2 linked regions of the Homo sapiens genome follow. The protein of the gene in region 1 interacts with the protein of each later gene in a pairwise test. Each region holds a gene or a part of one and is shown on either strand. Other genes may lie near its edges.

Region 1 (4,118 bases):
GGAGCCAAGAGAAGAGTTCCCTGCCCACTCAGGGAGAGGATTGGGAGAGAAGGGCTGGAGACTCGGGACCAGCCTCTCTACCCCCTCATTTTCCCTCGCTCTGTGTGTGCCTGTGGCCCTGACCCTGAGAGGCAGGAGGGGAAGGTGTAGTGCTAGCCAGGCTCCCTGCTACTCATACGTGCTGGAGTCCAATAACTATTTGATGAACGAAGAACAAATCAATACCTTTCTATTTAGATTTCGTCACATCATGTTTCTGTGACTTTGCCCTCTGGTCCAGGAAACACTGTTTTATCCAAGAGGAGCCTTGGGCCAGGGTCACAGGTCAGGGAATTTTCAGGCTTCAGCCCAGAACAGGAATGACTTGTTCCAAAGAAAATCAAGACTAATAAAGATTTCACAAAATATCTACAAAACAGAACGTTACGTCCATTTCATTCACTGTCACAGTGTAATATCCCTAAAAACTATCATAATATTTTAAAGCAATTTGGAGTTTACATTTTCTCTCTGCGGGGTTTCCTAATAATACACAACGAATGCCAAGAAATCAAAGCCAGTTGTAAACTAAATGTAATGAACTTGTAGCCAAATCATCTCAAAGACAAAGTTATAAAAAATAATTTCTAAAAAGTGCCCAGCATAAAATTATAGATAATATGGGCACATTTTACTATTATGCTGGTACCCCTATATATTCCAATATTCTTAAAATGGTGTTCAGCAAAGGCGATGATTCTATCTCCAAGTTAGTTCATTCCTTTAACAGTTTCATTTCAGCCTGTGTAACTGCTTTAGGTGGGGTGGAGGATCTAACGAAAAGGTCTATTTCGTTGTCAGGTAAAATTCTGCGTGGTTTTACGTAACTTTCCTGGCATAGATAGTGAAATAGTATATCTGGTGGGAAACCTCTAAGGATAGAGGATCTGGGCCTATAAATGACCTGAACCAAAGTTGTTTTTGTTTGTGACTGTTCACTTCCAAAAACAGACCAAAAAAGCTATGCAGATGTGGGTTATGTCAATCCTCCATCAATAACATTTAACAGATGCTTCCGAATGCCTGCTCCAAGCTCCTGACACTACTGGATGTGCTGTCTTTCTGTCCTTCACCGTCCCATTGCCAGGGACACAAGGGCCAGGCTTTTGGTCCATGCCCAGGGCGTTTGTCCACACCAGATTCCTTCGCTGCATCTTTTTTTTTAAACACCAACCAGAGCCCGGCGGATTGATGCACACTGTGGAAGACACGCAGAAGCCCAAGTAAGTCCCTGGCCCTGGAGCATTTGCGGTGTGCTCAGTGACGAAGGGGCGGAAATTCTTGTCATGTTAAATCCATGGCTCTCAGCACACTTCTCAATTCCAGAATCGCCCACAACGATTTTCAAAATTGAAAAGGAACTGGGATTTGTGCCTTGAGAGGGTCCCCAAACCTTGGAGCCACTCAGGGTGCTGGCTTTTGGCTACACATTCCCACCAAGAGATTTCATTCTTGCAATTTTCAAGGCCAAACATCTCTTAATCAGCGAATCATTCCTCAAAGGGCTGGAGGCGTTCCCAGCCCTGACCAGTTCCCTCAGCCACCCTCAGGTGCTGCCTTCACTTCCAGCAGAACTCTCCCTAGCCCTCCTGGACATCGCTGTCAAGCAAGTGTCTTGACCTTCCAAGAAAGTCACCTTCTTCCGTCAGCACTGGTTTCACAGTATGCCATGTCTCTTATCTCCAACTTGTAGCAAATTGTCCCTCTTTCCACACTGTGCTCCTTGACCCGTCCAGCTCCACATTCCACCAACAGACCATCCGAATCACCCACAGCTGCAGCTGTAGAAAAAAGCAAACAAACAAAAGCAGTTGCTCGTTGATCAGAATCGACCAGCATGCATCTAGGGCCCATAGCAGCCTAAAGGCTGAGAAGCTGAGTTACTCAATAGCAGAAAAGTCCAAAGCAGTGTGAGGACAACCGCCAGGTGGTGGCTCAGAGGAGGACACAGTCGCTGTGGGCAGGTGGTCAGGGCGCAGGAGGGAATGAGCTGTGGATTTTTAGTAATCTACAACAATCAGGCAGTTCCAGGACACAGGGAAGTGAGTGTGAACAGCCAATGGACCCGGAGCCGAGAGCCTGGGCAGGCGTAGGCTGGACTATGGACGCCCTGCAACCCTGCCAGGCTGGGAAGGGGAGGCTTGATCCTGAGCGCGTGTTAGGAAGGAGATGCCCAGGTTCAGGTGTATCGTGCATTTTTTTTCCACAGTGCAGAAATGACATTTCTGGTTGGTCTTGAATGTCTGCTCTGGCCAAGCCACCTCCTCTCATGCTAGCTAACCAAGTGGCACGTGTGCCCACGCAGGCCATTCTAAGGAACACTGTAATTGTCTAGACAATTTTCTCTCAAATACTCCGTCCTGGAAGCGTCTGGTTGGCAGAAGAGGGAAGGCAGGAGGGTGGCAGCGTCCCGGCTGAGTCCTCTTGCACATGGGAGCTGGAGTCCAGCCAGGCTCCAGAGCGGCTCCGGCTGGCAAGGGACCTGAACAGGAAGATGAGACTCGAGGTTTTCTGCATGTGAGTTTGGGGTGAAGCTGTGGATGTGGGGTGGGCGGGCTGGGGTTGACAGTCATCTGTTTTGGAAGCCCTTAGGCCCTGCCGGTTAGATGTGCATGCAGCCAGGGGTCCGAGCGTTCTCCAGAGGAAGGGACCGTGCTGGCCCCTACAGGAAAGGAAGCTGCAGGCTGGTCTGGGTGGCCTCCAGAGGACCCCACGCAGCTGGCATGAGGGCAGCCAGGCTCCTAATGAGCCAGGAACGACAATAATCCAGTTCCTGAGTGTTTGGGCAGAACTCTTTTCATCGCTTACCAGGCCTGTTTGGGAGGAAGGACTGAATCTGTTCAGTGTTTTGAGGCCACAGCTCAGCTCGGGGAGCTCAGCGCCACTGCCCCCTTCTGTCTGCTGGGACTCCCTCGTTTTTCTGCAAAGAGGGCCAGGCAGACTGTTCCGAGTTTCCAGACTTGGGAACATTCTCCTGCTCCCTAAATACACCCCTGCCCTCCAACACAGACACATATTGGCATGGCAGGAGAGGGGGGGAAGTGATAGATCTCTCTCAATGAGGGTAAAAAATGGTGCTGAAGAGGAGAAATGCCATGCAATTTGAGACGTGAGTTAATCCTTCAGTTACCTGGGGCCCCACATCCCCAACAGCTGCCACGGCTTCCCAGGATGGGCAGGAGGGACCCAGGCAAAATAGAAAAGGAACCAGGATTAGTGTCCTGAGACCGTCCCCAAACCTTGGAGTGCTGTCCTCACTGGCTTTAACTGGGTGCTGGCTTTAATTCCCGCAGTGTTCAAAGCCAAACATCTCTTGATCACTGGGTTTCATTTTTGAAGTCTTGGGAAACCAGAGGACAGTTCATCATCGTGTGCTTCCAGGGGCTGGGCCCAGGTCTGCTGTGAAAAGATGCTGTCATCTGAGCTCAGCGTTCATGCCCGTGTCTCTCAGTCACTCACTGGAGTTGGGGACGGGCTTATCTGTTAGGATGATAAAACTTCCATAGCATACGCCTTGCATTTGCTGGTATCTGTCCCAAAGGGCTTGTCAGTTTTTACATATATTATCTCAGCATCTTCTAGATGTCTCTGCAGAGGAGCTATTCCTATGTAGACAGTCATTCCTGTGTAGACAGTGAGTAATAGGCTGAGCAGCTTGCCCAAGATTAGTCAGAATTGAAGCCAGCGCCAGCCCCCATCCTTATCTGGCTCCAATCTGATTTGCATATCTCAAGCTTACTGTGTTTTATTTACCCATCTGTATAAAGGGTTCAATGCTTCTTAAGACATCTACAGAAAAATCTATAAAAAGGAAGACACGTAGATTCTTCCTTTGGTGCTATGAAAATGTCACTATTAAATATTTCCTGTTTTCCAGTTAGTTTTTAGTTTTTAGGTAAAGATCAATAAAATGGAATATGTCCATTATTGTTTTTAAAAAAATCATTCTGTTGCCTATATATCAGAAAAGATCTTTCATTACGCAGAGTAAGAAGTCTAAAAGTCTGTTTTCAAGGCTAGTGCCAATGTGTTTTTAAAACGCAGGTGGCCAGCCTTGCCAGTTCAGGAATGATTCTTGG
Region 2 (3,600 bases), on another chromosome or scaffold:
CTGGCATGGTGGTGGGTGCCTGCAGTCCCAGCTACTCGGGAGGCTGAGGCGGGAGAATGGCGTGAACCCGGGAGGTGGAGCTTGCAGTGAGCCGAGATGGCGCCACGGCACTCCAGCCTGGGAGACAGAAAGAGACTCCGTCTCAAAAAAAAAAAGAAATAAAAAAAAAATCTGCTTGTTGGAGAAGCTGCATCCTGAGCTGTTTCTCTGGCAACAGGTAGTTCCACTGGGTCTGAAATGGGATATGTGGGGGTTAATCCAACAGGCACCACCATCTGCTGGGAAGCCATGGTAGCTCCCATCTATCAGGCCAGCACTAGGCTCAGGCCCTTTGCCAAGGCCTTTAGATCTTCTTAGTCGGCCCCATTTTAGGTGAGAAAACTGAGGCTCAGAGGCCAGTTCTTTGCCCAAGATCTCACAGCCCTCCTCCACAGGAGTGATTTTTCTGACTTTTCTGGCCTATGGTCTTAATGACCACGTGTGGCTTTGCTGCTACCTTCCCAGGATCTGTCATTATGGAGGGAGTGGTGGGGACCCTGGGCCCACAGCCTGCTTTCCAGGAGCTCTTGGTCAGTGAGAGAGGTGCCCAGAGGATGTGCTTCTCCCAGAGGGATCAGAGAAGGCTGCATGGAGCAGGAAATAAATGAGAAAATGGAAGCTAATTCTCCATCAAACCCTTCTGTTTCCCAGGATTTGATGAATGTTCCTGGTATGGTGGGAGGAAGGGGAGGTGGGTAGAAAGGCTCCCAGCTCCTGGAGAAGGAGATACACTTTTCATTCGGTATCAGAATGTGTCCTGAAGAACCAATCTCAGTATTCTTCACAGATGTCTGGTGGTGTTCATTGATTTATCACTATCGTTATTCCTTGTAGATTCAGAAAGAACACCAGATGGAATATGATATTAAACCACATAAGACAGAAGAGTTAAAGCGATGTATCTTTAAAAGCTGGTGGTGTGGAGGGGAGAATTGACTTGCAGCAAGTTTAAGGCTGTTGATTATTTGTTGAACTTCCTAGCAGCCTAGGCAAAAAGGGAAACATGAAGAATCTATGCAGATAGCGTCTAAAAAAGGAGGCAGGTCTTTGTTTTGTTTTGTTTTGTTTTCTCTTGCCAATGGATTCATGTCACAAGGCAGGCAAGTTTGATCTACAGATAACTCTTTTGGTTTTAAAAAAAAAAGGCATCAGTGCTACAGATTTTTGTGTAGCTCAGGTGGAAGAATGCAGAAGGCGTGGTTATTTGCTTATGGGGAGCTCCCAAAGCCTTTTTACAATAAGTATAAAGTAGTGCTGTTAGGTGCCCATCTCTCATTTTTTCAAGCCTCCCCAAGCCGTGGGGAGAAGGATGATCTTATCTGGATTTACTGATAAGTAAATAGGCTCCGAGAGGGTGAGGAACTTGTCCAAGGTCACACAGGATAGAGTGGCAAGCTTGGCTTTGCACTTCGATCTGGAAATCCAAAACCTGGCTCTAGCTATGCTTCCTCATCTTGTTTACTTTGGGGGTGGGAAGTTCTAGAGTGCTTTCTAGGGGGAAAAGGGGGACTGCAGGAAGGGAGACTCATCAGGGGCCAAGGCCATCAGGGAGGGCTTCCTGGCATAGGAAGGGAGAAGGAGGATCAGGACAGACCAGAGCTTGTACAGAGACCTGTCAGTCAGTAGGCGTCCTTGAGGCCCAGGATGTGGAAGCTGTGTGAATGCCCTGTGGCGGTAAGGCCATTTGGTTTGGTACCTTCTGTCCTTCCATTTTGCCCCACCTCCTGGGATTGGGGGTGGCCACACAATTCCCACTTTGCAGGTGAATAACAGATCAAAAGCCTCACCTAGCTAGGCAGGTGGCAGGGTGGCACATGCCTGTAGTTCCAGCTACTTGGGAGGCTGAGGTAGGAAGATTGCTTGAGCCTTGGAGTTTAAGGCTGCAGTAAGCCATGATCACGTCACTGCACTCTAGCCTGGGTGACAGAGTAAGACCCCTACTTTTTTTTTTTTTTCCTCGAGACAAGGTCTTGCTCTGTCACCCAGGCTGGACTATAGTAGTGTGATCACAGCTCACTGCAACCTCAACCTCCCAGGCTCAGACGATCCTCCCACTTCAGGCCTCCTGAGTATCTGGGACGACAGGTACATGCCACAATGCCTGGCTAAGTTTTTATATTTTTTGTAAAGATGGGATTTCATCATGTTACCCAGACTGGTCTCGAACTCCTGGGCTCCAGCAATCCACCTGCCTTGGCCTCCCAAAGTGCTGAGATTACAGGTGTGAGCCACTGTACCCAGTCCTCTACTCTTAACAAAAAAAAAAAAAAAGGAAGAAGAAGAAGAGAAGCCTTCCCTAGATCTCCATGATCCATGGGGTGGCATGGAGAGTGCTGATGGGAACACAGGCCTGGACGCTGAGAGCCTTGGGTTCAAATCCTGGCTCTGTCCCTTTCTGGCTGCATGATCCTGGGGGAGTTCCCAAATTTCCCTGAGCCTCACTTCCTTGTCTGTCAGATGGTGATGGCAGGATCTAGATCATGCCTGCAAAGAGCTAGCCTAGCACTATATGTGGGAATGAAGGACAGTTTGGATTCACAGGGTTATAGGATCCGAGGGTTCTTATGCAAGCATAAGAGGTGCCTTTGCAGCATCTCCAACATGAACTTGCATGCTTCCAGAGACAGGGAGCTCAGTTCTTCTTAAGGCTGCCTGCTCCATCCTTGGGCACTTGGGAGTGTTGGAAAGTTCTTCCTTATGGTGATACCGGCTCTGTCTCCGGCCCCAGGAGGCAGACCAGCTCCTCTGCAGATGAAGGGCAGGGCAGGGACTGAAAGCCAACTCTGGTCTCCAGGAAGGGGCTACCTAGATGAGATTGTTGGAGTCCGAGTGAGGTGTGAGCAGGGCTTGGTCACACTCGGATTGCAATGTCTGAGACTCCCGGGGCTTCCCTTAGCACTGAGATTTGTGGGTGGTTCAGTCTTTTTAGTACAGCATTCCAGGCCCCGCATGCCCAATATCTTCATCCAACCCAGCTCCACTGCACAGAGCAATAAATGCCTTGTATTGTTAGTTCCCCCCACACTCCCCACTTACTGCAAGGGGGGGAGTATTGAGTGTTTGGGAATTAATGTGTAATTACATTATGAATATATGAATACATTCTCCTCACAAAATAAAAAAACCTGTACAGATTACACTAAAGCTGTAGTTGGATTACCCACCTCTGTCCCTAAGGGGACAACTATTTGGGGTGTTTCTAGTCTTTTTTCCTGTGCACTTTTGAAAACATTGATAGTTTTATTCTGTATCCTTTGTTCAGCAAGTTGCTTTTCTCATACTTGGTGCATCTGAGAGCTCTTCTTGTGCTCTGTCATCCAGGCTGGAGTGCAGCGGCGTAATCTCAGCTCACTGCAACCTCCGCCTCCCGGGTTCACGCCATTCTCCTGCCTCAGCCTCCCGAATAGCTGGGACTACAGGTGCCTGCCACTACACCCAACTCATTATTGTATTTTTAGTAGAGACGGGGCTTCACCATGTTGGCCAGGCTGGTCTTGAACTCTTGACCTCAGGTGATCTGCCTGTCTCTGCCTCCCAAAGTGCTGGGATTACAGGCATGAG

Evidence for each region.
Region 2: the proteins of CLDN14 (region 1) and PLLP interact in binary tests that used the Homo sapiens proteins (3 or more experiments, as listed by UniProt).

What each region holds. Positions count from the first base shown.
Region 1 is NC_000021.9:36,477,933-36,482,050, reverse strand, and holds the start of CLDN14 (claudin-14), read left to right. Parts: upstream 1-1,928; 5' UTR 1,929-2,556; exon of another isoform or gene 2,557-4,118.
Region 2 is NC_000016.10:57,278,073-57,281,672, reverse strand, and holds part of PLLP (plasmolipin), read left to right. Parts: intron 1-3,600. UniProt on the Homo sapiens protein: Main component of the myelin sheath that plays an important role in myelin membrane biogenesis and myelination. Plays an essential function in apical endocytosis. Regulates epithelial development through the regulation of apical endocytosis.